Linked DNA regions of Homo sapiens: region 1 is linked to region 2. Evidence: fine-mapped expression QTL. A gene starts in region 2. The other region holds a variant in brackets. All regions are shown on one strand. Distances are from middle to middle. Region 1 holds the start of ZNF653 (zinc finger protein 653). Region 2 holds the start of ELOF1 (elongation factor 1).

Region 1 (9,775 bases), 57 kb after region 2:
CTGGCTACTGGGTGTCACCAGGACAAACCTAGTCCCTCGAGTCAGCAAGGGAACAGGCAAATTACACTTTGGGGAGCTTAGGAGAGGAGCATGCCTTGAGTGGGGGGTCAGGAGGCCTTCCTGGCAGAATACAGAAAAACCAGGAGTCATCGCCCGGGTGAAGTGTGGAGTGGGCAGCCTAGGCAGCGGGGCTAGCTTGTGCAAAGGTTTGGAGGCACAAGAAAGTGGAAGGAAGCCGGGCACAGTGGCTCACGCCTGTAATCCCAGCACTCTGGGAGGCTGAGGCGGGTAGATCATTTGAGGTCAGGAATTCGAGACCAGCCTGGCCAACATGGTGAAACCCCATCTCTACTAAAAATTTAAAAATTAGCCCGGCGTGGTGCTGTGCACCTGTAATCCCAGCTCCTCGGGAGGCCGAGGCAGGAGAATCACTTGAACCTGGGAGGCGGATGTTGCAGTGAGCCGAGATCTCGCCACTGCACTCCAGCCTGGGTGACACAGCGAGACTCCGTCTCAAAAAAAAAAAAAAAAAAAAAAAGGAAGTGGAAGGGAGTGTAAAATACCTCAAAAAGGTGTAGGCATGGGTTAGCCGCTGCAGCCCCCACTGTGCAAACCTTAAGGGTGCATGTCTTCCAACAGTGGAGGAAGGCCCTGTCTTCGCCATGTGCATGGCGGGTGCTCATGACCAGGCGACGATGGCTAAGTGGATCCAGGGCCTGCAGGAGACCAACCCAACCCTGGCCCAGATCCCCGTGGTCTTCCGCCTCGCCGGGTCCACCCGGGAGCTCCAGACATCCTCTGCAGGGCTGGAGGAGCCGCCCCTGCCCGAGGACCACCAGGAAGAAGACGACAACCTGCAGCGACAGCAGCAGGGCCAGAGCTAGTCTGAGCCGGCGCGAGGGCACGGGCTGTGGCCCGAGGAGGCGGTGGACTGAAGGCATGAGATGCCCTTTGAGTGTACAGCAAATCAATGTTTTCCTGCTTGGGGCTCTCTTCCCTCATCTCTAGCAGTATGGCATCCCCTCCCCAGGATCTCGGGCTGCCAGCGATGGGCAGGCGAGACCCCTCCAGAATCTGCAGGCGCCTCTGGTTCTCCGAATTCAAATAAAAAGGGGCGGGAGCGCTGTTGGTTGTGCGCATGCGCAGTTTCCATTCTTGGTCTCCTTTTGGCGCCCTGGGGCAGCGAGAGACCGTGAGAAATTTCTCGGCGGCGCCGAAGATGCGCGCCACTTCCGGTCTGGCTCCTAACAACGGGGGAGGCTGGTAACCAGGGTGGGGGGGATGGCGGAGCGGGCGCTAGAGCCCGAGGCGGAGGCGGAGGCTGAGGCGGGCGCGGGCGGGGAGGCAGCAGCCGAGGAGGGCGCAGCGGGCCGAAAGGCGCGGGGCCGGCCGCGACTCACGGAGTCGGACCGGGCCCGGCGACGGCTCGAGTCCCGGAAGAAGTACGACGTGCGGCGCGTGTACCTGGGCGAGGCGCACGGGCCCTGGGTGGACCTGCGGCGCCGCAGCGGCTGGAGCGACGCCAAGCTCGCCGCCTACCTCATCTCTCTGGAGCGCGGCCAGCGGAGCGGCCGCCACGGGTGAGGGGGCCTGGCCCCGAGGGAGGGAGGGAGGAGACGCCCCCAGACCCCGCCGGGCTTTACCCCGCCCCCTCCGCTTCTAGGGCCAGCCCCCGGCACCTGCGGACCCCGCCCAGGAGCCGGGCCGGCGGCCTGGGTCTCGTACTGCCTGGCCGGGACGCGCCTGGCTCGTGGCCCCGCCTCCCATCGTTCCGACTGCCCAATCCTAGGGTGCACCCAGCCCCTCGACCCGCCTTCTGAGCGCTTGGCCCCGCCCGCTAGAACTCTGGCGGCCCAATCCTGGGACTGGCCCCACCTCCAGGCCTTGTAACTAACCAGGCCCTGGGGGGGCAGCCCCGCCCCCTCACCGGTCTCATCCTCCCCCGCTTAGTTCCCCACCTGGCCTGGGACTCTGGACACCCTGGGGCACTCAGCCCTGCCCTTCTTGAAGTTCTGGTGCCCCATCTGGGACTCCGTATGGCCCCATTCCCACAACCCTAGATCCAACACATCCGGGGGACCCTTCACAACCTGGACTGCACTCCCCTAAACCTATTTCTGTGAAGCAACTCAGCCCAGGGAGACTCGGATGAAGAGGAAACCCCTAGTTAGCTTGGCAGGTGGAGGGCAGAGAGGCCTGTCTTTGTAAATTCTCAGTCTTGAGAAGGAGCAGTGTGGATGGAGTTTTTCCCTTCCTGCCTTATATGTTGATGTGATGATTGAGTTAAAATAGGCAAAGAGCTTAGAAGAGTGCCTGGCAGGTAGTGGGTTCCCTAAGTATTAACTTTTACGAGGATGACGTTTATTCCGTATCACAAGCAGTGCCGCAAGGAAATCCTTGTTCTGCCCTGGTTTTCAGGTACACATGTTCTCATGTTTCTCTGGGGGGAGATTCTGAGAGTCAAGAATCAAACAGATCCTGCTAAGTTATACCCACCCCTTTCCCAGGACAGCAGGCTGGCTTATATGCTCAAGAGCAGGACTGGAAATGCTGGGAGCGCAAAGATACCTGCCTCATGGAGCGGACATTCTGGTGGGCAGAGGGGATGGCTTGTTCAAAGGTCTGGGGGGTTTTTTTGTTCGTTTTTCTTTTCTTTTCTTTTTTTTTGAGACAGAGTCTTGCTCTGTCGCCCAGGCTGGAGTGCAGTGGCACGATCTCCGTTCACTGCAAGCTCCGCCTCCCGGGTTCACGCCATTCTCCTGCCTCAGCCTCCCAAGTAGCTGGGACTGCAGCCGCCCGCCACCACGCCCGGCTAATTTTTTGTATTTTTAGTAGAGACAGGGTTTTACTCTGTTAGCCAGGATGGCCTCGATCTCCTGACCTCGTGATCCACCCGCCTCGGCCTCCCAAAGTGCTGGGATTACAGGCGTGAGCCACCGCGCCCGGCCCTCGTTTTTCTTTTTGAGACAGGGTCTCACTCTCTCGCCCAGAGTGGAATGCAGTGGCATGATCACGGCTTACTGCAGCCTCAACCTCGTGGGTTCAAGTGATCCTCTTACCTCCGCCTCCTGAGTAGTTGGGACCACAGGTGCACGTCACTCCACCTGGCTAATTTTTGTATTTTTTGTAGAGACAGAGGTTTCCCTGTGTTGCCCAGGCTGATTTCAAACTCCTAGGCTCAAGTGATTCTCCGGCCTCAGCCTCTCAAAGTGCTGGGATTACAGGTGTAAGCCATTGTGCCCAGCCCTGTTTGTTTGTTCTTGAGACAGGGTCTCACTTTGTCACCCAGGCCAGAGTACAGTGGCATGTTCATAGCTCACAGCAGCCTCAACCTCCCAGGCTCAAGGGATCCTCCTGCCTCAGTCTCCCAAGTAGCTGGGACTACAGAGGAGCCACCTCACCTGGCTAATTTTTTAATTTTTCATGGAGATGGGGGTCTCGCCATGTTGCCCAGGCTGGTCACGAACTCCTCGGCTCAAGGGATCCTCCGTCCTCAGCCTCCCGAAGTGCTGGGATTAAAGTCATGAGCCACCATACCTGGCAAAAGGCTTGTTTACTGCAGACCAGAAACATAAGTAAATTGTATCGTCCATGAGAGATAGGGGCTACGGAAAAAACAAAAGTGAAATGAAGAGTGTGAGTTGGAAGTTTAAATAGGGAGTTAAGGTGGTCACATTCAGAAGATAGCATTTCAGTAAAGACATGAAGGAACCTAGGAGGAGCCATGCAGATCTCTGGGGAAGAGTTGAGGCAGAGGGAATAGCAAAGGCAAAGGTCCTGAGGCAGGACCCTGCCTATTGTGTGCCAGGAACACTGAAGAGGCTTGTGTGGCTGGACTGCAATGAGTGAGGGGGAGAAGGGAAGACAAGGACAGATTGGTGACAGGGAAGGTCATCCAGAGCCATGGAGAGGACTCCAGTTTTTCCTCCCAGTGAGGTGGGAGCCTTTTCTTAAGTGCAAGATTTTGTACAGAGAAAGAAGTGGTATGGTCTGCCTTTATTTCCCCTGATGCCCCCCCCACCTTTTTTTTTTTTGAGATGGAGTCTTGCTCTGTTACCCAGGCTGGAGTACATTGGCGCAGCCTCAGCTCACTGCAACCTCTGCCTCCCGCGTTCAAGCGATTCTCCTGCCTCAGCCTCCCGAGTAGCTGGGATTACAGGCGTGCACCCCCATGCCCGGCTAATTTTTGTATTTTTAGTAGAGACGGGGTTTCGCCATGTTGGCTAGGCTGGTCTCGAACTCCTGACCTCAAGAGGTCTGCCTGCCTCGGCCTCCCAAAGTGCTGGGATTACAGGTGTGAGCCACTGCGCCCGGCGGGGTTGCAGATTTAAATGTAAAGATGAAACCATACCCGGGCCTGGGCCTGGCCTTTTATTTCCTTATTTATTTGTTTATTTATTTTTGAGATGCAGTCTTGCTATATTGCCCAGGCTGGTCTTGAACTCCTGGACTCAAGAGATCCTCCCACCTCAGCCTCCAGAGTAGCTGGGACTACAAGTCACACACAGCCTGGTTTGTATTTTAGAAGAAACTGTCTCTAGGATGTGTGTGGCTTGAAGAATGGATGGGGTACACATTGTGATACAAGGTTGGCCAAGAGTTAACAATTGTTAAAGCTGATGATGAGTCCAAGGAGGTTCATGACTCTTGTCAACAATTAAAATAAAAAAAAGGAAGACCAGGCATGGTAGCTCACGCCTGTAATCCCAGCACTTTGGGAGGCCAAGGCAGGTGGATCTCTTGAGGTCAGGAATTTGAGACCAGCCTGACCAATAGGCCAAAACCCTGTCTCTACTAAAAATGCAAAAATTAGCCGGGCATGGTGGCGCACGCCTGTAGTCGCAGCTGCTTGGGAGGCTGAGGCAGGAGAATCACTGGAACCCGGGAGGTGGAGGTTGCAGTGAGCCGAGATCGCGCCACTGTACTCCAGCCTGGGCAATAGAGCAAGACTGTCTCAAAAAGTAAAATAAAAATAGGCCAGGCGCGATGGCTCACGCCTATAATCCCAGCACTTTGGGAGGCCAAGGTGAGCAAATCACGAAGTAAGGAGTTCGAGACCAGCCTGGCCAGCATATTGAAACCCCGTCTCTACTAAAAATACAAAAATTAGCTGGGCGTGGTGGCACACGCCTATAGTCCCAGCTACGCAGGAGGCTGAGGCAGGAGAATCACTTGAACCCAGGAGGCAGAGTTTGCAGTGAGCCAAGATCGTGCCACCGCACTCCAGCCTGGGCAACAGAGCGAGGCTCTATCTCAAAAGAAAAAAAAAAGTTACTAAAGGGATACTTTTAGACAGAAAACACAGGCCTGAGTGTGGCGGTTGCTCTCCTTGGTAAGGGAGGTGAGGGAGAAGCAGCAGCCCGGTGCCAGTGGAGCACTGGGCAGTGGCAGCACCCAGGAGGCCAAAGGAAGTGTC[T/C]GCCATGTCCAGTGCTGTTGGGCCGAGTGAAGCCGTCACTGGTGACTGTGATGGGAGAGTGTGTGACGTGATGGAGCAAAGCTCTGACTGGAGGAGTTCCAGTGAGATGGAGGAGAGGACATGGAGACAGCGAGTGTAGACAACTGTGACAAAACGGGGAAATGAAGAAGGAGGCTGGGTGCTAGTGGCTCACACCTGTAATCCCAGCACTTTGGGAGGCTGAAGCAGAAGGATCTCTTGAGCCCAGGAGTTTGAGACCAGCTTGGGCAACATGGCGAAACTCGATCTCTACAAAAAGTACAAAAGTTAGCCGGGTGTGGTGGTGCATGCCTGTGGTCCCAGCTACTCAGGAGGCTGAGGCAAGAGGATCGGTTGAGCCCTGGAGGTCGAAGCTTCAGTGAGCTGTGATGGCGCCACTGCACTCCAGCTGGGGCAACACCACGAGAGCCTGTCTCAAAAAGAAAAAAAAAAAAAAAGATATGGGGAAGGGGCTGGTGGGGAAGGTGGGTATCAAAATGATTTTAACCCAAGATGGGAGAAATCATGGCATATTTAGATGCTGGTGGGAATGACTGAAGACTGAAAGGAAATGGCGGGAAACAGCCAAGCCAGGGCCTGAGTAGCCCCGGAGCTGTGGTCCTTGATGCCAGTGGCCTCTGCTGGGAGTCACAGAGAAGTGGCAGAAGTTGGAGAAGTGGACAGGAGAGGGAAGGCAGTTTGAGGGAGAAAGCCCTGTGTGGGGGTTGGAAAGTGGCGCTCACCAGGTTACATATGACCTTGTTTGGTCCCCATGGTGACCCTGTGTCAGAAGCACTACTACTATTTCCACTTCACAGACGGAGACTGAGGCTCAGAGGGGACAAGACCTGCTTGAGGTCACACAGGCAGTTGAGAGCAGAGCTGAGTCTTGAACTTGGGTCTGGCTGATACCCAAGACTGTCCCCACTGCAATGTGACACTCCCAGCCTCCAGCGGTGAGTGGATGGAGGTGGCTGTGGACATCAGGACTTGGGTTTGGGGCAGGGCATGGTGGCTTACACTTGTAATCCCAGCACTTTGGGAGGCTGAGGCAGGCAGATCACTTGAGGTCAGGAGTTCGAGACCAGTCTGGCCAACATAGCGAAATCCTGTCTCTACTAAAAATAGAAAAATTAGCTGGGCTGATGGCAGGCATCTATAATCCCAGCTACTCAGGAGGCTGAGGCAGAAGAATCGCTTGAACCCAGGAGGCAGAGGTTGCAGTGAACTGAGATAGTGCTACTCCACTCCAACCTGGGTGACAGAGCCAGACTTGGGTCTTGGGTTGGGTGAAGGTCTCTACAGCCAGTGTGGTGCTTTGCAGGGGAGGGTGGAGCCATGGGAAGGGATAGAGTCACATGGAATGGGACCTGGAGTAGCAGAGCCAGAGGCAGGGGCAGAGCCTGGGGCAGGAAAGATGGAAGATCCCCAAGGTGCAGTCCTGGGAACCAGACGGGTGTGGGACTGAGAATTGTTACAGGGCTGGGCAGGAGTCAGACGGGGTGGACAGTTTTGCTGATAAGAGACACTAGACTGGCTGTCAGGATGTTTGTGGCAAGAGCAGGTCTGGGCCACAGCAGGGAGGCCAGGGGGCCCAGGCTCCACGATGATACTGATAATCATAACGATCATTGTACCATTTGCTTATTGATGATTAAGTGACAGGGCTGTACCATGACGAAGATCGTTTTTTGTTTGTTTTTGTTTGTTTCTTTGTTTTTGAGACACGGTTTTACTCTGTTGCCCAGGTTGGAGTGCAGTGGTGTGATCATAGCTCACTGCAGCCTTGACCTCCCCAGGCTCAGGTGATCCTCCCACCTTAACCTCCTGAGTAGCTGGGACTACAGGTGCATGCCACCCCGCCTGGGTAATTTCTGTATTTTTTGTGGAGATGGGGTTTCACTGTGTTTCCCAGGCTGGTCTCCAACTTCTGGCCTCAAGCGATGCACCCGTCTTAACCTCCTAACGTGCTGAGATTACAGGAATGAGCCACGGAGCCTGGCCTTTTTTTTTTTTTTTTTTAATTGTATAAATAGAGGTGGGATCTTGCTATGTTGCCCAGGCTGGTCTTGAACCCCTGGCTTCAAGCAGTCCTCCTGCCTCAGCCTCCCAAAGTGCTAGAATTACAGGTGTGAGACACCACACCCAGACAGTACCCACTGTCTTGCTGGCTGTGGGCCAAGACCACTCTCAGCCTCTCAAGTAGCTGGGACTACAGGCTTGAGCCACTGTGCCCTACAAGATATGTTCCCGTTTGATTAACTCACAGTCACCTAACCAAGGCTTGACATCCAGTCCTACTCACAGGCCTGCCCCGCTCAGGGGAAGAGGATCACACAGGGCATGTGTCCCAGCAGAACTGTGGGGGCCATCTTGGAATTCTGCTTCCACACAAACTTTTCATACCCACTTTGTTACTTCTCTGCTCCCTGACTGTGGGACCCAGGGCAGATGGCCTCACCCCTCCAAGCCTGTTTTTCCTGCTCCTTGAGGTGGATGATGCTAGAGCCCCCTCCCAGGGCTGATGGCAATTGGGGAGAGAGTCCAAGGGAGGGGCCTGGTGACACAGTTCTGGAGTTGGGGAAAGGTACATAGAAGTTCAGATTCTAGGCTGGGCACGGTGGCTCACGCCTGTAATCCCAACACTTTGGGAGGCCGAGGTGGGCGGATCACCTGAGGTCAGAAGCTTGAGACCAGGATGGCCAACATGGTGAAACCCCGTCTCTACTAAAAATACAAAATTAGTCTGTAATCCCAGCTATTCAGGAGTCTGAGGCAGGAGAATCACTTGAACCTGGGAGGCGGAGGTTGCAGTGAACCGAGATCGCACCACTGCACTCCAGCCTAGGCAACAGAGACAGACATTGTCTCAAAAAGAAAAAAAAGTTCAGGGCAGGCGTGGCGGCTCATGCCTGTAATACCAGCACTTTGGGAGGCTGAGGTGGGCGGATCACCTGAGGTCAGGAGTTCGAGACCAGCCTGGCCAACATGGTGAAACTCCGTCTCTACTAAACATACAAAAATTAGCCAGGTGTGGTGGCGTGCACCTGTAATCCCAGCTACTTGAGAGGCTGAGGCAGGAGAATCGCTGGAACCTGGGAGGCAAAGGCTGCAATGAGTCAAGATCTCACCACTGCACTCTAGCCTGGGCAACACAGTGAGACTCCATCTCAAAAAGTTCAGATTTAGTTTCAGTGTACAATGAGCAGTGGCTCTAGCCACTGTTGTTACTCATGGGTCAGACAGGCCCAGCGCTGGTCCCCCGTTCACCCTCTCTGCCTCTTTCTGTTGCAGGAAGCCTTGGGAGCAGGTCCCCAAAAAGCCAAAGCGGAAGAAAAGTAAGTGGAGGCTCAGCCTGGGGGAGGTGGGGAGAGTTGGGAGCGGTGGGAATATGGAGATGGAGGCCCAGAGAGGCCAGGTCGCTGCCCTAGGCAGCACAGTTGGAACCAGCAGAGCCCGACCTCAAACCCGGGTCTGCGTGTCTTGTGTCTCAGGCGCAGTGTCCTTGGCTCCCTCATTCTCTTGCTCCCGGCATGGGAGTCAGCCAGGGGAGAGCCGAGCAGAGGGAACAGCTTTTGCAGAGCCCTAAGGGCAGGGGGAGCCAAGCACTGGTGGTTAGAGGGGAGGTCTGGAGCTTGCTCCTCCTGTCCTGCTGGCCACCAGTTGGTGAGAGCTTGAACTGTCAGGGTCTGCACAGCTCTGAGCCCTGGAGCTGGGGGTCCCAGGCCATGTCCAGCAGGGTGAAGGCCAGCTGGTGGCAGTGAGCCCCTCCCTTCTTAGGTTTCTCCAGAGGCAGGGGTGAGCTATGACCTTGATCCTGAATCCTCAAGGGATGAGGAGCGCATTGAGGAGGGAAAGGGCTGGGCCGGAGAGGCGGCTGTGGGTGACGACTCTGTTGCCCTCATGATTGGAGACTGTGAGCACATTCCCTAGACCCAAACACCTCTTCTGGGCCCCTCTTCATCTCCCGGCCCACAGGGTAGGAGTGGGGGACATGCTGTCCTCGCACTTGGCTGAGGGACCAGGACCATCACAAGAGTCAGATACCATTTCCCAGCACTCACTGTGTGCCCAGCCTTGTTCTGTGTCCTGGCGATGTCTTCACTCCCTTCCTCCTGCCTGGCAGCCCTCCGGGATGGGAATCCCTTATTCTCCCCAGCCTAGAGGAGGCACCTGGGGCTCAGAGAAGCCAAGTCACTTGCCTGGAGCTACCCAGCTTGGAAGGGGCAGAGCCAGGATTCAAACCCAGGCGGTCCGGCTCCACCATGCCCGCCCGCTATGCAGCGTTCTCTCATCCAGCAAATGTTCCTGGAGCACCTGCTATGAACCAGGCCCTTTGGG
Region 2 (9,775 bases):
CAGCCTAGGCAGCAGAGTAAGGCCCCGTCTCTAAATAAATATATAAATAAATTTTAAAATTATAAATAAATATTATAAATAAAGTTTTAAAAGGGTAGTAAATTATGAAAATGTGACAAGACAAAGGGGTTTGGGCTAGAGCAGTTAATGGTGGAAAAATAACTAGAAAAATAAGGGTTCATTTAACAAGGTTTGTTTGTACATTTTTTCCTCAGCTTTGACTCCCTGTCTTCTGGTGATAAGAATTGTACGCTCTAGGGCTGGGCGCGGTGGCTCAGGCCTGTAATCCCAGCACTTTGGGAGGCAGAAGCGGGTGGATCACTTGAGCTCAGGAGCTGGACACCAGCCTAGGCAACTTAGTGAAACCCTGTGTCTACCAAAAATACAAAAAAATTAGCTGGGCATGGTGGTGGGCGCCTGTGATCCCAGCTATTTTGGGGACAAGGCGAGAGGATCGCTTAAGACTAGGAGGTGGAGGTTGCAGTGAGGTTGCAGGAAGTGGATATCACACCACTTCGCTCCAGCCTGGGCAACAGGATGAGACCCTGTCTAAAAAGAATTTTACTTTCTTCCTGGGATGGGGAGGGCATCTTCCATATGGGGGTTTATCTCGTTTTCCAGAGAAAAGAGGGAGGTCAGAGTGCTTTTCCTGCACCTACTGTTTTTCAAGTGCACTTAGCTGAAACAATCCATATGCCAAAGTGGCATATTTTGGAGTGGTGTCATCTGCCACCCTCAAAATGAAAGAAATGGTTCATAACAGCTCTAATAATTGTTCAACAACCGGCAACAATGCAAAAAACAGGTCACTAACAGGTGAAAAGATAAACAAAGTGTGGGACATTCATATAACAGAATACAACTGAATAATAATCATGCCTATAATCCAAGCACTTTGAAAGGCCAAGGCAGGTGGATTGCTTGAGTCCAGGAGTTCGAGACCAGCCTGGGCAACATGGCAAAACCTTGTCTTTACAAAAAACACAAAAATTAACTGGGCGTGGTGGTGCACAGGTGTAATCCCCGCTACTCGGGAAGCTGAGGTGGGAGGACTGCTGGAGCCTGGGAAGTTGAGGCTACAGTGAACCATGATGGTGCCACTGCACTCCAGTCTGGGTGACAGAGTGAGACCCCATCTCAAAAGAAAACAAAAAAGAAACAAACTGCTGACATATCCAACAACACGAGTGAGTTCCTTTTTTTCTTTTTTTTTTTTTTTGAGACAGAGTCTGGCTCTGTTGCCCAGGCTGGAGTGCAATAGCGTGATCTCGGCTCACTGCAACCTCCGCCTCCTGGTTTCAAGTGATTCTCCTGGCTTGGCCTCCCAAGTAGCTGGGATTACAGGCGCACACCAACACATCCAGCTAATTTTTGTATTTTTAGTAGAAATGGGGTTTCACCATGTTGGCCAGGCTGGTCTTGAACTTCTGACCTCAAGCAATCCACCCGCCTTGGCCTCCCAAAATGCTGGGAACATGAGTGAGTTTCAAACATCTTATGCTGGGGAAAGAAGCCCAGCTCAAAAGGCTACACGTTGTATGATTCAGCTTATATGACTTTCTGAAAAAGACAAAGTTACAGGAACCAAAAACAAATCAGTTAGGGCCAGGGGCTGGAGTAGGGGACAGAGCACAAAAGGGCAAGAGAAAAATTTCTTTTTTTTCTTATTTTTTTTTTTTTAAGACTGAGTCTTGATCTGTCACCCAGGCTGGAGTGCAGTGGCACAATCTTGGCTCACTGCAGCCTCCGCCTCCCGGGTTCAAGTGATTCTCCAGCCTCAGCCTCGCTAGTAGCTGGGACTTCAGGCGTGTGCCACTATGTCTGGCTAATTTTTGTATTTGTAGTGGAGACTACAAGGGGTCTCACCGTGTTGCCCAGGCTGGTCTCAAACTCCTGTCTTCACGTGATTCGCACACCTCGGCCTCCCAAGGTGCTAGGATTACAGGCATGAGCCATCACACTCGGCTACTGGTAAGAGGAAATTTCTTAGGGTGATGGAAATAATTGTCTTGATTATGGTCATGTTTTAATGATATACCTGTATGTCAAAACATGCAATTTCGGCCAGGCATGGTTTAAATATGAGCAGTTCATGTTCAGTCAATTACATCCAACAAAGCTGGGAAGGAGGGAAGTAAGAGAGGGAAGGGATGAAAGGAGAGAAAAAGAGAAAACTAATGTGGCAATCATGAACAAAATGAAAGATATATACATCCTGTGACTCAATGTCTTTGTTTTTTTTTTTTTTTTGAGATGGAGTTTCACTCTTGTTGCCCAGGCTGGAGTGCAGTGGCGCGATCTCGGCTCACTGCAACCTCTGCCTCCCGGGGTTCAAGTGATTCTCCTGCCTCAGCCTCCTGAGTAGCTGGGATTACAGGTGCCTGCCACCATGCCCAGCTAATTTTTGTATTTTTAGTAGAGACAAGGTTTTACCATGTTGGTCAGGCTAGTCTTGAACTCCTGACCTCAGGTTATCCACCCGTCTTGGCCTCCCAAAGTGCTGGGATGGGCCAGGCGCCGTGGCTCACGCCTGTAATCCCAGCACTTTGGGAGGCCAAGGCAGGCAGATCACGAGGTCAGGAGTTCAAGACCAGCCTGGCCAACATGGTGAAACCCCATCTTTACTAAAAATACAAAAATTAGCCAGGCATGTTGGCGCACACCTGTAATCCTAGGTACTCAGGAGGCTGAGGCAGGAGAATTGCTTGAATCCAGGAGGTGGAGGTTATAGTGAGCCGAGATCACGCCACTGCACTCCAGCCTGGGCCACAGAGCAAGACTCTGTCTCAAAAAAAAAAAAAAAAAAGCAAAAACAAAAAAGTGCTGGGATTACAGGTGTGAGCCACCATACCCGGCCATCATTTATTGTTTTTTATTTTATTTTATTTTATTTTTAGAGACAGGATTTCACTATGTTGCCCATGCTAGCCTCAAACTCCTGGGCTCAAGCAGTCCTCCCACCTCGGCCTCCCAAAGTGCTGGGGTTACTGGGGTGAGACACTGTACTCACAAATGTCATTTTTTGAAAACTATGCTTCACTAAAGATCCAGTCTTAAGGATACTGATTCAGGGACATTTACTGCATCATCACAGTGGCAAAACTCAGGAAAGTCCAGGAATTGTCCATCAGTAGGATAACCGTTGATTATACTATGGCAGAGTTGCACTATGAATCATGTAGCTACTAAAAACAAAAGTTAGGTATACGTGTATAGATGGTTAAGTGGAAATAGCAAGTTGCACGGTAACTGTATAGTATGATTCCATCCTGTGTGTATTCTAGTTTGCTCCAGCACTGAAAAAGGGTCTCACAAGAGGGCAGTTCTACTGGTTACACTTGACGGTTACCAGGGTAACACTGCCCCCTAGGGGATATCCTAGAGATCCCTCTACAGACAGCCCCTGACTTGATTATGATAGGTTTATCGGGATGTAACCCCATCGTAAATCAAAGAGCATCTGTATTCGAAATACATTTCATTACAAATTATCTTCCTGAACACTCTAATGCAACAGCTCTTATCAAGGTCCGCAGGGACCAGACCCTTGCCAAACTCAACTGTCAATTCTCTTTCCTCATCTTCTTCAACTCAGGGACACGTGACACAGCTAACCCCTCTCTCTCTCCATCTTGAAATATCTTTTTCAGGCCAGGTGTGGTGGCTCATGCCTGTAATCCCAACAATTTGAGAGGCCGAGGTGGATGGATCACTTGAGGTCAGGAGTTCGAGACCAGCCTGACCAACATGGTGAAACCCCATCTCTACTAAAAATACAAAAATTAGCCAGGCATGGTAGTGCGCACCTGTAATCACAGCTACTTAAGAGGCTGAGGCAGGAGGATCGCTTGAACCCGGGAGGCTAAGGTTGCAGTGAGCCCATATGGCGTCACTGCACTCCAGCCTGGGCGACGGAGCGAAACCCTGTCTCAGAAAAAAACAAAACCAAAAATAAAAACCAATAAAAGTCCTTGGCCGGGCGCGGTGGCTCACGCCTGTAATCCCAGCACTTTGGGAGACCGAGGCGGGTGGATCGCGCCTGTAATCCCAGCACTTTGGGAGGCCGAGGCGGGTGGATCACGAGGTCAGGAGTTCAAGACCAGCCTGGCCAAGATGGTGAGACCCCATCCCTACTCAAAAAAAAAAAAAAAAAAAAAACTACAAAAATTAGCCGGGCGCGGTGACCGGCGCCTGTAATCCCAGCTACTCGGGAGGCTGAGGTAGGAGAATCACTTGAACCTGGGAGGCGGAGGTTGCAGTGGGCCGAAATCGAGCCACTGCACTCCAGCCTGGGCGACAAAGTGAGACTCCGTCTCAAAAAAATAAAATAAAATAAAACAAAAATAAAAAATAAAAATCCTTAACACGGCCCACGAGGCTCCATGGAATCTGGCCCCAGCCTGTCCACTCAACCTCATCTACTACAATCTGGGCACTCAAAATGTGGTCTGCGGATCAGCAGCATGGAAGTCACCTGGGAGCGAGTTAGAACAGCAGCCTCTCAGGCCTCCCTCTTCATCTGCTGGATCAGAACTTGAACTTTTTAGTTTGAGTAGAGCGTCTTCCATGCTTACAAGCTTCCCCTTCACCCTGATTCAGCCATAAGGTTATTTCATATTCCTCACTTGCCGCTCCTGGAAACTGACCAGAAGTACTGGCATCGCGCGTAGGTACAGGCAAATACGCACCGGCTCTTGCGCAGGCGCACTGCGTCTCCGTCGGAGCGCTGCTATTTGAGTACGCGTGCGCTCAGAGGAGCGGCGAAGGAGGCAGGGCCTATTTGCTGGGCTGTCCGGGATGGGGGTGGCCGGGACCTGAAAGTAGGAGAGGGGTTTCCGCTTCCGGCAGGAGTCGGAAGTCACTATCTCCCGGGTGAACGGAGCTTTCGCAGCTGGAGAAGGTGAGTGCTGGTGCGGCTCGTGCGAGTGGGCGTTGGGGGTGGGCAGGACTGGAAGTTCCTCTACTCCGTGCGTTTACGGGGTCCTGGAGGAGGCTCCTGGGACCTCGAGCTTGGGGGAAAGCCGGTCGGGGAGACTGACTCCCCCCGACCCCATCCTTCCAAGCGCGACTACCGGGACGCCTGGCTCCTCCCGGCGGCCGTCGGGAGGCGATGCCGAAGCTTTAGTGAGTCTGGAGGAACAGCCAACCCCCCACCTCTTGGGTACCAGCAGATTCGGGGGATGACTCCTCTGCCATCCCCTTTTGGCGCTCTTGGACTTAACGTTGTCACAGGACAGGCTGAGGCCTCTGCATTCCTTGTGCAAGCCAGACCCCATTCATGGGATGGGGAGACTGTAGTCCCTGGGCAAAATGAGCTTCTGGGGCTCATCCGTAGATTTTGTTTGGACTTTTTTTTTTTTTTTTGAGAGTGAGTCTTGCTGTGTCGCCGAGGCTGGAGTGCAGTGGCGCGATCATAGCTCATTGCAGCCTCGACCTCCTGGGCGCAAGCTTCCCACTTCAGCTTGCCGAGTAGCTGGGACTACAGACTCAAGGCTAATTTTTGTAATTTTGTAGAGATGAAGGGTCTCACTCTGTTTCCCAGGCTGGTCTGGAACTCCTGGCTTCAAGCGATCTTCCCACCTGGGCCTCCCAAAGTGATGAGATTACGGGCGTGACGTCCCAAAGTGATAGAGTTACAAGCAAACTGATTGAGTGATTTATTCAGTAATGGTTATTGCTGGGCACGGTGGCTCATGCTTGTAACGCCAGCACTTTGGGAGGCCGAGGCGGGAGTATCTCTTGAGCCCAGGAGTTCCAGACCAGGCTGGGCAACATGGTGGGTCCCTGTCTCTACAAAAAATACAAAAATTAGCTGGGCGTGGTGCCGCGGCTAATTTATATTTCAGAGGTAGAGGGGCAGGGGGAGGATCGCATAAGGAATGTGTGAGGGAAAAAGACATTGAGGATGAATCCAAGGTTTCTGATTTGATTATCCGGAAAGATGGAATTGCTGTTAGCTGAGATGAGGAAGACTGGAAGAGCAGGTTGCAATGTCAGGGGCTTGGTTTTGGACATGATATGTTTAATCTTAGGTGGAAGTTAGACATCAGGTGGAGGTGTGGCTGAGGCAGATAGATCAGAGTCTGCAGTTCAGACTCAAGGCTGGAGAAGCAGGTGGCCTCAGTGTAGAGTAGGCATGAAGCCCTAAGACTGGGTGAAATCTTCATGTGGTGAGTATAGCCAGAAAGGAGAGGATCCAACAATTAAACTCATGGGCTTTTTGCTCTGTTGCCCAGGCTGGAGTGCCTCGGCTCACTGCAACCTCCGCCTCCCAGGTTCAAGTGATTCTCCTGCCTCAGCCTCCCGAGTAGCTGGGATTACAGGCGTGCACCACCATGCCTGGCTAATTTTTGTATTTTTAGTAGAGATGGGGTTTCACCATGTTGGTCAGGCTGGTCTCGAACTCCTGACCTCGTGATCTGCCCACCTCGGCCTCCCAAAGTGCTGGGATTACAGGCGTGAACCACTGCACTCAGCCTTTTTTTTTTTTTTTTTTAGATGAAGTTTTGCTCTGTTGCCCAGGCTGGAGTGCGGTGGCACAATCTCAGCTCACTGAAACCTCCGACTCCCAGGTTCAAGCGATTCTCCTGCCTCAGCCTCTCTATTAGCTGGGATTACAGGCATGTGCCACCACGCCCAGCTAATTTTTGTATTTTTAGTAGAAATGGGGTTTCACCATGTTGGCCAGGCTGGTCTCCAACTCCTAACCTCAAGTGATCTGCCCACCTTGGCCTCCCAAAGTGCTGGGATTATAAACGTGAGCCACAGCGCCTGGCCCAAACTCACGTGCTCTCTTCATTGGAGCAAGTTGGCAGAGAGGCAGGAGCATAGGAGACTAGCAGGAGCCACCAGTGAGGCAGAGGACAGGGAGCACATGGCATCCTGAGAGCCACATGTGCTCTCAGGGGAGGAAGGACCTCTGGAATGGGAGGACTGCCATTGGGATTTGCAGTATGGAGCCACCAGTAACCTAAGTTTGGAGGCAAGGGGTGCAGAGAGATGGGTGGGAATGCAGATGGCTGTACACTAAAACAGCCTGCAGAGAAAAGGATCATAGCTGGAAGAGGATGAAGAGTTTTTTTTTCCCCCTTTTTAAATGAGGAGAGAGGTAATAACAAGTGTGTGAGAGTGATCCAGTGGAGCTGGAAAATTTGATGTTGCTCAAAGAAAAGGGGATGGGAGCCAGGGCAGAATGAACAAATTGTTTTTGCAGGAACTTACTTCCATAGTAAAGGAGGCATGCCGAAGCTGGGCATGGTGGTGCACACCTGTTGTCCCAGCTACTGAGCAGGCTGAGGCCAGAGGATTGAGGCTTTAGCAAGCTGTGATCATGCCACTGCACTCCAGCCTGGGCAACAGAGCAAGACCTCATCTCTTAGATAAATAAAGAGGGTGGGTGAATGGCTGAATGAGTTGGTCCTAGGAGCTGTCTTTGGATTGCTTCTATTTACTCAGTGAACTGGAAGCATCACAGTTAAGAGTTGGGGGTGTTGGCTGGGCGTGGTGGCTCACGCCTGTAATCCCAGCACTTTGGGAGGCCGAGACAGGCGGATCACGAGGTCAGGAGATCGAGACCATCCTGGCTAACACGGTGAAACCCCATCTCTACTAAAAATACAAAAAATTAGCCACGCGTGGTAGTGCATGCCTGTACTCCCAGCTACTCGGGAGGCTGAGGCAGGAGAATCATTTGAAGCCGGGAGGTGGAGGTTGCAGTGGGTCGAGATCATGCCACTGCACTCCAGCCTGGGCGGCAGAGCAAGACTCCATCTCAAAAAAAAAAGAAAGAGTTGGGGGTATTACATAGGAAGTGATCAGCAGATAATGAATGAAACTCCACTGTTTATTCTGGAAGACACTGGCAGGCTGCTGACCTCCCCGTCACAGTGGAACGATGCTAGAACCAGCAGTCGTGTGTGTGTGTGTTGGAGGAGGCGCCATAGGAGGCTCAGGGATGGCAAACACAGTGCCCTGAGCACCGTGCCTCGCAGGGGAGTTGGGCTCAGTGGTAACTGCTGCCGTTTCCCCACCCACCTGCCTCCTGGACATCTGTTCCTAGATATCCCTCTGCCACCCAACCCCATCATTTTCTCCAAAACCCTGTCCTTCCTATGTGTTAGACATCAGAGAATGATGCCACCTTGTCCCTCTAGCCACTATGTCCCCGCCACAACCTTGGGAGTCATCCTGGACTTTCCTTCTCTCGTCACACTCACTCACTCTGCCGCCATGTCTCCTCTGTCTCTCTCACCCTCTGCCATCTCTACCCCAACAGCCCTGTCCTGGCTGTGACTTTGTCTTCATCCAGATTATGGCTCACACCGCAGTTCCTCAAAAGCACAGGGTGACTTTGTCCTTTCACTCCTTGTAGCTCCCAGGATCCATCCAAACACCCAGAACCCTCCCACCTGTCCCTCCTCTCTCCCTCACCTGCCAGGGGACGGACAGCTGCCCTGAGCCTTCACACAGTGTTCCTCTACTCAGAAGTGCCTGTCCCCACTTCTCTGCCCTGCAGTCTGTCATCTGGATCGAGGCCATCAGATAACCTGAGTGTCACTCCTCCTGGATGGTACTTACATGTCCTTTGCCAAGAGGAGCAGCCAGAATAAAATCACCAGTTCCTAGGCTCTTAGGCTCCACCCGGCCCTGAACAGCTGGCTTGTCTTGGAGTCTCTTGTGCCACCCTCCCCAGGAACAGTGGCTTCCTTGTATTGGCGCCAGCGATGATGGGCCAGCTCTGTGCTAAGTACTTAACTTACCATTCCTGGTGTCAGCCCCACAAGTCTCCTCTGAGATAGCAACCTTATTTCGACTTTTTTTTTTTTTTTTTTTTTGAGACGGAGTCTTGCTCTGTTGCCCAGGCTGGAGTGCAATGGTGCGATCTCGGCTCACTGCAGTCTCCGCCTCTTGGGTTCAGGTGAGTCTCCTGCCTCAGCCTCCTGAGTAGCTGGGGTTACGGGTGCCTGCCACTATGGCCAGCTAATTTTTGTATTTTTAGTAGAGATGGGGTTTCACCGTGTTGGTCAGGCTGGTCTCGAACTCCTGACCTCGTGATCCGCCCGCCTCAGCCTCCCAAAGTCCTGGGATTACAAGTGTGAGCCACCACACCTGGCCTTTTTTTTTTCTTTTTTTTTTTTTATGCAGGGTTTCATCCTGTTGCCTAGGCTGGAGTGCAGTGCCTGGATCATAACTCTGGATCATCACTGAAACCTGAAACTCCTGGGCTCAAGCGATCCTCCCATCTCAGCCTCCCAAGTAGCTGGGACTACAGGCCTGCACCACCATGCCTGGCTAATTTTTAATTTTTTTTTTTTAGAGATGAGGCCTCACTATGTTGCCCAGGCTGGTATCCAGGTCCTGGCATCAAGTAATCCTCTCACCTTAGCTTCCCAAAGTGCTGGCTGGGATCACAGGTGTGAGCCACCATGCCTGGCCTTGTCTCTGTTTTATAGACGAGGAAACTGTGGCACAAAGAGCTTAAATAACCTGCCCAGGTCACGCAGTAAGTGAGAGAGATGGGGTTAGAGCCTCGTCTCACCCCTTCCATCCAGAGTGGGACAGGGAATTGTCCTCCTGCATCAGGACTGAGGGCCTCGTCCCTCAAGGGCAGAGGCCCCGGGACCACGGTGCAAGTCCCAGACCCTCTTTCCGGCCTGCTTTCTAGAGCATTGAGCTGGGGCGCTGCGTGGTTTCCTCAAACCACTGACATCTGCCACTCCCCACAGGCTCATCCACCTGCAGACATGGGGCGCAGAAAGTCAAAACGAAAGCCGCC

What was found. PIP is the estimated chance that this variant, and not a neighbour inherited with it, causes the effect.
Region 1: its variant is fine-mapped to the expression of ELOF1 in esophagus mucosa (GTEx, PIP above 0.99).

What each region holds. Positions count from the first base shown.
Region 1 is chr19:11,497,293-11,507,067 of GRCh38, reverse strand. ZNF653 (zinc finger protein 653) reads left to right here and starts at 1,229. Exons shown (of 9, transcript NM_138783.4): 1 at 1,229-1,580; 2 at 8,729-8,772. The coding sequence starts at 1,282. It overlaps ECSIT (ECSIT signaling integrator), which reads left to right. Exons shown (of 8, transcript NM_016581.5): 8 at 640-1,139. The coding sequence ends at 884. RefSeq lists silencers at 1,034-1,083, 1,244-1,913 and an enhancer at 2,064-2,133. The variant T/C (reference allele first, on the strand shown) is at 5,417.
Region 2 is chr19:11,554,316-11,564,090 of GRCh38, reverse strand. ELOF1 (elongation factor 1) reads left to right here and starts at 4,861. Exons shown (of 4, transcript NM_032377.4): 1 at 4,861-4,900; 2 at 9,726-9,775. The coding sequence starts at 9,744. RefSeq lists enhancers at 3,243-3,537, 9,466-9,665.